2 linked regions of the Homo sapiens genome follow. Each later gene encodes a partner of the first gene's protein in a complex. Each region holds a gene or a part of one and is shown on either strand. Other genes may lie near its edges. The genes, in order: RASIP1 and RAP1B. A codon is read from its position in the direction of its gene.

The links.
Region 2: the proteins of RASIP1 (region 1) and RAP1B are in contact, whole or in part, in a crystal structure (PDB 5KHO), measured with the Homo sapiens proteins. Residues at the interface, in NP_060275.2 of Homo sapiens: Val147 (codon at 811), Lys149 (codon at 805), Ala156 (codon at 784), Ser157 (codon at 781), Gly158 (codon at 778), Ala159 (codon at 775), Asn160 (codon at 772), Tyr161 (codon at 769), Lys162 (codon at 766), Ser163 (codon at 763), Val164 (codon at 760), Leu165 (codon at 757), Glu181 (codon at 709), Arg182 (codon at 706); in NP_001010942.1 of Homo sapiens: Val24 (codon at 1,634), Gln25 (codon at 1,637), Asp33 (codon at 1,661), Pro34 (codon at 1,664), Thr35 (codon at 1,667), Ile36 (codon at 1,670), Glu37 (codon at 1,673), Asp38 (codon at 1,676), Ser39 (codon at 1,679), Tyr40 (codon at 1,682), Arg41 (codon at 1,685), Glu54 (codon at 3,250), Leu56 (codon at 3,256), Phe64.

Annotation. Positions count from the first base shown.
Region 1 is NC_000019.10:48,738,534-48,742,443, forward strand, and holds the start of RASIP1 (ras-interacting protein 1), read right to left. Parts: upstream 2,078-3,910; 5' UTR 1,988-2,077; intron 1,754-1,987; 5' UTR 1,750-1,753; coding exon 1,613-1,749; intron 1,113-1,612; coding exon 427-1,112; intron 1-426. Other genes in the region: IZUMO1 (izumo sperm-egg fusion protein 1 isoform 1 precursor), read right to left, coding at 2,375-2,495, 2,768-2,945, 3,256-3,409, 3,676-3,776. UniProt on the Homo sapiens protein: Required for the proper formation of vascular structures that develop via both vasculogenesis and angiogenesis.
Region 2 is NC_000012.12:68,648,779-68,652,688, forward strand, and holds part of RAP1B (ras-related protein Rap-1b isoform 1 precursor), read left to right. Parts: coding exon 1-3; intron 4-1,621; coding exon 1,622-1,690; intron 1,691-3,216; coding exon 3,217-3,273; intron 3,274-3,910. UniProt on the Homo sapiens protein: GTP-binding protein that possesses intrinsic GTPase activity. Contributes to the polarizing activity of KRIT1 and CDH5 in the establishment and maintenance of correct endothelial cell polarity and vascular lumen.

The sequences.
Region 1 (3,910 bases):
TGGACTCCACAAACGCTCCTCAGGATCTACTACTCCGCAGACCCCGCTACACACCCCACCTCCTCCAAGGCAGTCTGAAATGCCTGCAGAAGGCCCTAACCCCAATTCGGAGCCACTTCAGGCCACTCCAAGCCACCACCAGCAACCAGCCCCCGTCCCGCCTAAGCCCCAAGCTTGGCCCCTGTAAAACTCCTGCTCAATCAACAAGCCCCACCCAACTCTCAGGCCCGCCCATCTGGCCGCCCCCGGCCCTGCTCTAGCTCTGCCTAGAGTCCAACACGCACCGTCCAGTCCCCTCCCAGTCCCCTCCCGCGGGCCCCGCCCCCAGCCAGCCCGCGAGTCCCACAAGCCCCGCCCAGGCCCCGCCCCACGGACCCCGCCTCTCTGGCACCGAGTCCCCGCCCCAGAGCCCCGCCCGCCGCTCACCTTCGCTGTCCGCGGCCCCGAAGGCCTCCTGCTCCAGGCGCCGCGCCTCCTCGCGGCCGCGCAACTCGAAGCGCCGCGCCCAGCCGGGCCGCGCCCGCCACAGCTCCTGCACCAGCAGCGGGCGCTCGGAGTCGCCCAGCACGCGCAGGTGCTCCGCCCGCCACTCGCCGCTTCCCACGCCCGCCGCCGCGGGCCGGCCCAGAGCGTCGCACAAAGCGAAGGCGTCCACGCAGCTGCTCTCGCCGGGGCCACCGCCGGGGCTGCCTGCTAGGCCGTAGCGCTCTAGCGCCTCGGCCACGAGCTCGCGCGCCGTGGAGCGCGCCGTGGCCAGCACGCTCTTGTAGTTGGCGCCCGATGCCAGTCCGGCGCCGAAGATCTTGAGGACCCCCGGAGGCGCCGTGGCGCGGGTAGCCAGCGGGGGCTCGGGGGCCACGCCCGCCGCCAGCTCCGGCAGCTTCTTCTCGCTGGCCCAGCGCTGCGCGCCCCCCGGGGTCCCAGGGCCTCCTGCGCCGCTGGACCCCGTGGTCCCGGTCCCCGAGCCCCGGAAGAGCTGGGAGATGCGCTTGGCGCGGCTACCGGAGGCTCCCCCGGCCGCCTTGACAGCGCCCACTCGCCGCAGCTCCACGTGCGGCGGGGGCGGAGGTAGCGGCTCGCTGCTGCGGCTCCCCGTGTCCGACGAAGAAGACCTGGGAGTCCGCCGGGGAACAGAGTCGCGGGAGAGAGACCCAGGACGACACGCCAAGACGGGGGTGGGGGCATATTAGGAGGGAAGTGGGCAGAGACCCAGAGGGAGGACAGGGACCCAGGGTGGATGGACGGGGCGGGGGTGAGGGTGGGGACAGACGCGAGGCAAAGAGAGAGAGAAAAAATAAATAAATAAAGGCAAGTCCCACAGTAGGAAATTCCAAGAGGTGAGCAGGGAGGGGAGGAAGGAAGGTGAATCAATCCCCCTGCTCCTTCTGTCCCCGTCCCCGTGCCCATCCGGCCTCACTCCACCTCCTAGCCTAGCTCTTACTCCCACCGCGCCCTGGTATCACTGTGCCCCACCGTCTCCCCCTGCCCACCAGCTCGTTTGCCCAATTCAGGATGAGGACCGGAGCCAACACTTTGCAGGGACTGGGCAGTGAACAGGGACAGATGGGAAGCAGGTGTGCAGGGGCAGGAGTCCTGCAGAGATGGCACTCACTTGACAGAGGCTGCGCTGGGCCAGCGCCGCCCCAGCTTCGCCAGCTGCTTCCTGGGGGAATTGATCCACAGGCCCACGGGGAGATGAAGCTTCCCGAAGCGGGGGCTTCCGCCCTCCTTCCGTTCACCAGACAGCATGGCCCTAAGGGAAGGCGGGTAAGGCCCCAACTCCTAAGGCATTCTTGTGGGGATGGGGTGGAGGGAACCTGGACTCCGAGTCAGAGGGAGGAGGGGGCTGGGGCTCAGACTTGCGAGTCCAGGGGGAGGAGAGGGATGGTACCCTGGATTCCTGGGTCCTGGGATGGAAGATGGCTGGGGGACTGAGTCTTGGGGCCCAGGGAGGAGGGGTTTGGGCTGCTGGGTCCCTGGCTCTTACCCTGCTTCGGGTCCGGCACACCCGGAGGCCCTGGCTCCACTGGCCTGGGTCAGTTCCACTGCTCTTGCCTCTGCCACGGCTCCCAGCACTGGGTGGGGGACAGGAAAAGGCAAGAGGAAACCCGGCAGGAAGAGCGGGGAGGGGGCGTCCTGTGAGGAGACCAGGCCTGGGGGAGGAGATCTGGGTAGGGTTGGCCCTGCCCCATTCCTTGATTCTGGAATTACATCGCAGTCAGTTGGTCCCCTCCAGGACCCAAGGGTCCCGGTTTTCTGCCCTTCCTCCCTCAGGCCGGAGCCCATCCCCAGACCTCTCCTCTCGGGGAACCAAAGGCTAGAATCAGTCCCGTCCCGGGGAGTGAGTCAGATGCTTAGACAACAAGATAAATCTTTATTGTTGCCTCGAATCTGTGGCCTTTTCTTTTGGGACCTGGGTTTGCTCGGCCGCTCCACTGCCAAGGCCAAACAGTGAGGATTTGATGAAATCGATCACCTTCCTTCGACGAAATATCCTAGGGGTGGGAGTGGGGTGCAGATCATGGAACCGGTTTGGGTACTAATTGTGTGGGGGACACCCCTCCCAACCTCCCCCTTTGTGACCTTATTCTAGCAATTACCTAAGCCTCGCCCTTCGAAGTCCTCCTATTCAAGCCCCCCGCACTCCATCCCCAGGAAAGTCCTGCTCTCAGGCCTCAGTAGCCCCCAGACCAGCTTCTGTGTTGGGTTCCTGGAAGCCCCGCCCCTTACTCCAAGCCAAGCCTGTCTTCTTCAATGGGTTGCTTACGCAAAGGTAAGGCCGGTTATCAGTGCTAGGGAGCCGCAGATCAGCAGCCCCAGAAGGCGGCTTGCCAGCATTTTCTCGGGCTGCAGAGGCTGGAGGCTTATGGACGACTCCGTGGTCGCCTCCCCCGGGGTTACGATATTTGGAGAAGGTTTTTCCTCCTTGATCATTTTGGGCAACACTGTTAGAGAAAGCGTAAAGAGCAGTCCTGGCAGGGCGTGGAGTTCCTGCCCTGGCAAAGACAAGCCCGTCCCAGTAGCCGGCCATCCCAGAGATAATCACGCCTTCAACAGTGTCAAGCCTGAACACACCCAAGGGAACCCCTGTCCTCGGGGCCAGAGGCCACGCCCCCGGCAGGAAGCCACACCCCGTGCCCCGAAACCACACCCAACAGGAAGTCACGCCCCCATCGCCAAGGCCACGCCCCCGCCGCGGACCCCAGCTTTCCTGGGCCCTGAATCCTACACTTCTCTCAGCCCCACAGCACTGACCTGTGACGTGAAAATTGATGATCGTGGCTGGGCTGGAATTCACAGAGCCCAGCTCGCAGCGGTAGCTGCCTGCATCCTCTGGACCCACCATGGGCTTGGTCAGGGTGGCCTCTTTCCCCTTGGACACCAAGGTCTCCGTATTGTTCCCCCAAACCTAGACCCAAGCTCAAGGGGTCACTGAGGCCTGAGGAATTCAGGGGTTGGGGGAGTACAGGGGTGAGAAGATCACAGGGCCTCAGTGTGGGAGGTGAGTGTCCAGGGTGTCACTGGTCAGGGCACGGGGTCCCCAGAGGTCTGTAGAGACCACACCTAATAGACCACCCTCCTGGGTCATGAGAATCGTGGGTGCAGGCCCATAGATCCAGAACACAAGTATTGTAGTCTAGGGAGTTCAAGGGTTACAGAAGTTGAGGCCCTCACCCTGTAAAAGCTGTAATCAGTGAGGCCTTCCGAAGCCTGATGCCAGTTTAACTCACAGTCCAGGATCATGTCTTCCATTTGAGGAACTTCCACATTCCGCTCTGGGGGTGGGGGATGACCATGGGACACTCATGATTCTGTTTTTGTTTTTGTTTTTGAGATGGAGACTCGCTCTGTCGCCCAGGCTGGAATGCATTGGCGCGATCTCGGCTCACTGCAACCTCCGCTTCCTGGG
Region 2 (3,910 bases), on another chromosome or scaffold:
TTGGTAAGTCATTCTTACTTTACCTAAGCCTTTCACTCCAAGACGTTCTTTTTCTGTTGAGTTTTAGGTTTTGATGATTTGTCTTTGTTAAGATAAAATTCCTTAATGACTTTAGAAGCAATATAATATTTTTCTTGTAATTTTATTCAACTTTTAATTATATCTGGGTGGATCATATTCTCTCTGGAACATTGACTCCAGAATGACACGAGTTATGCTGGAATACAATTTGAGCTAAGCACAGAGATTGAGAGCGTACAAATACATGTCTTTTTGCATTCGCATTTCAGAGCCAGATAGGAATAAATTTTGGTCTTTTTATTTATTTATTTTTTTGAAACAGGGTCTCACTCTGTTGCCCAGGCTAGGGCTCAAGTGATCTCAGCCTCCTGAATGCTTGGGACTACAGGCACGTGCCACCATGCCAGGCTAATTTTTAAAATTTTTTGTAGAGATGGCGTCTTGCTATATTGCTTAGGCTGGTCTTAAACTCCTGGCCTCAAGTAATCCACCTTTGCCTCCCAAAGTGCTGGAATTACAGGCATAAATCACCATGCCTGGCTTGCTCTTTCTTCTTATGAATAGTCTTACCCTGTACATTTTATGTTAGAAAATATCAAAGCTTATAAAAAGTCTTCAAATATTACCTTTGACTGTCCAGCTTTACATTTTTTAACGGCACGTTTTCTGCATCAAGGAATGGTATAGCAAGAATGAAGACATAACTGGGTAATGAGGGTTGGGAAAGAGGAAAAACGTAGGGAAAATAATTTGATGAATAGTTCAGAGCTTAGCAAAGCCTCACAAGCAAATAGATTGACCTTCTGTCTCACTCATAAGATAAACCATCTTGGCCACTTAGAAAGGCCACCTAGCTGAGAAGTGTCATGCTTGGAACAAACTGAGAAGTACATACAATGTGAAATGAACTGCTTTTTCATTTGTATCCAAAGTGATGGGGAGGTCAGTTGATCCTGCATGTATGTGTGTATACATAACAATTAGTCAATTTCTAATTTAAAAATCAAATTTAAGCTCTTAAGACTGAAACAATGCCGGCACAGTGGCTCACGCCTGTAATCCCAGCACTTTGGGAGGCTGAGGTGGGCGGATCACCTGAGGTCAGGAGTTCGAGAGCAGCCTGGCCAATATAGTGAAACCCCGTCTCTACTAAAAATATAAAAATTAGCCAGGTGTGGTGGTGCATGCCTGTAATCCCAGCTACTCGGGAGGCTGATGTGGGAGAATGGCCTGAACCCGGGAGGCAGAGGTTGCAGTGAGCCAAAATTGCGTCACTGCACTTCAGCCTGGGAGACAGAGCAAGACTCTGTCTCAAAGAAAAAAAACAAAGGACTGAAACCAGAGACATTTAAAATTTTTTAATATATGATCTCTAAATTTAGAATTACCCAATAAGGAGCATAGTGATTATTTATTTAAAAATAAACAGCTTCCTGAGGTAATTTTCTTACCAAATGTACACATTCGAATGTAGTATTGGCTGTGGTTTTTTTTTTCATTGATGGTGTAACTCCCTGTGTGAACTCAGTTTACAATTACATTAAAGATTGAATGTACTCTTTTCTTTAGAAGTATAATGGTTTCTTAATTTTTTTTTCAGACTGTACAATTTGTTCAAGGAATTTTTGTAGAAAAATACGATCCTACGATAGAAGATTCTTATAGAAAGGTATATATTACTTTGGAAGGCCTTTTGCTTTTGATTTTAATATAAATACTTATTTTAGCTTTATAATTATTGAATGTTTTATACAAAGGATGGAGGCAGAGTTAATTTATAAAATTAGTGGGAAAAGTTTACACTTTCTGGCATTGCATAGTTACCAGTTTAAGAGGATCATAAACACCCATACTCTCACATATTCACAGAATTTTTTGTAATTTGACACATAAACTTTAAAGCAGACCATCCATTTCAAGTAGTAGCCCCATGTTACTTTCAGTCCCCTACCTAGCAAGACTGATTACTCTCAAGCTCCCTTCTTTTTAACCTAGAAATAGGTGGACACAGGTCTTCCTAAGCTTTCTACTTACTAACCTCTTGAGAAAGTGCCACCACTCACAATACTGGTTGAATATCCCTTATCTGAAATAACTGGGACCAGAAGTATTTCAGATTTCAGATTATTTTCTGATTTTAGAATATTTGTATATACATAATGAAATAGAATGGGACCCACATCTAAACAATTCATGGTTTCATATACACCTCATACACATAATCTTACATAATATTTTTAATATTCTTATGCATGATACAAAGTTTTGGCTGCATTTTGACTGTGACTGGTCACATGAGCTCATGTGTGGAATTTTCCACTTGTAGCGTGATGTTCCACACATGGCTCAAAAACTTTTGGATTTGGAACATTGCAAGTTTTGGATTTTTAGATTAGGGATGCTCAGCCTATAGAAAGGTGAATTCCTGTGTCCACTAACAGCATGTGACAATAAAACAATGTGTAGACATTTTTAACTTAGTAGGGAAAGAGGTATTTCCCAACCTCTATGAAGCAGCCAACCTGGCCCCGCTGTTGCACAAATACTGTGTTTCCATTCCTCCCTCCATGTGCATAGTCTACCAAAAAAAAAACTGGAAACTTTTGCACCCCAGCTGTGAGACAGTATTACTCTTTTCTTTCTACATCTAATTCTAAATACCTATTTTTCCCTAGGAAATATTAGATGGAAAGGGGTAACAGGGATATATGTGTAATTTATTTAATAGCTGTGCCACTGCTTCCTTAATTCCAGAAATCTTGTTCCAGTATGGTGAGGGCATATAGTTACCTAGAGAAATGAGGTATATCTAAAGTATCATGGGAGAATTTAGACAGAATTACTTATGATACTGTTGGAACTGTTGCTGGTTTTGTTTGTTTATTTGAGCTATTTCGAAACTATTTTTTTCTCTAGAATTAAGTGCTGAGAATCCATATTGAGACTGGTTCGTGTAGGTTTCCCTGTGTTGACTTGAGAACACATGGCTTTTGAACTTGATTACAATTTGGGGGTCTTTGAATCTTGATTACTTAGCTATTTTTCCTCCTGCTTTGTTGAAGTATTGCTGGATATTAGTTTGTAAAGTTGTTAAAATCTGTGTGTCTTATTTTTGATACATTAGCTTTTTTGTGTATATTAAGGTAGTTTTATGTACATTGAAAAAATGAACATGTATTTTAATTTTTCTACCAGCAAGTTGAAGTAGATGCACAACAGTGTATGCTTGAAATCTTGGATACTGCAGGAACGGTAGGTAAAACTAAATACCAAAGTATATACACCGTTTGTACAGTATTGACTTCATAAATGCTAGTACTCTATAGACAAATATTAGTTAAGCTTATTTAAAAGTACTGCTTGCAGCCGGTTGTAGTGGCTCACACCTCTATTCCCAGCACTTCGGGAGGTCAAGGTTGCTGGATCACTTGAGGTCAGGAGTTCGAGACCAGCCTGGCCAACATAGTGAAACCCCATCTCTACTAAAAATACAAAAATTAGCCAGGTGTGGTGGTGGGAGCCTGTAATCCCAGCTACTCAGGAGGCTGAGGCAGGAGAATCTCTTGAACCCAGGAGGCAGAGGTTGCAGTGAGCCAAGACTGTGGAGATTGTGCCACTGCATTCCAGCCTGGGTGACAGAGCGAGACTCTGTGTCAAAAAAAAACATAAGACTACTAGTTGCTAAACTTTAAATCTTTTTGTTGTTGTTCCGTTGAATCCTTAATTTTATATTGGCCGGGCGCAGTGGCTCACGCCTGTAATCCCAGCACTTTGGGAGGCCAAGGTGGGTGGATCACTTAAGGTGAGGAGTTCAAGGCCAGCCTGGGCAACACAGTGAAACCCCGTATCTACTAAAAATATAAAAAAAATTAGCCGGGCGTGGTGTTAC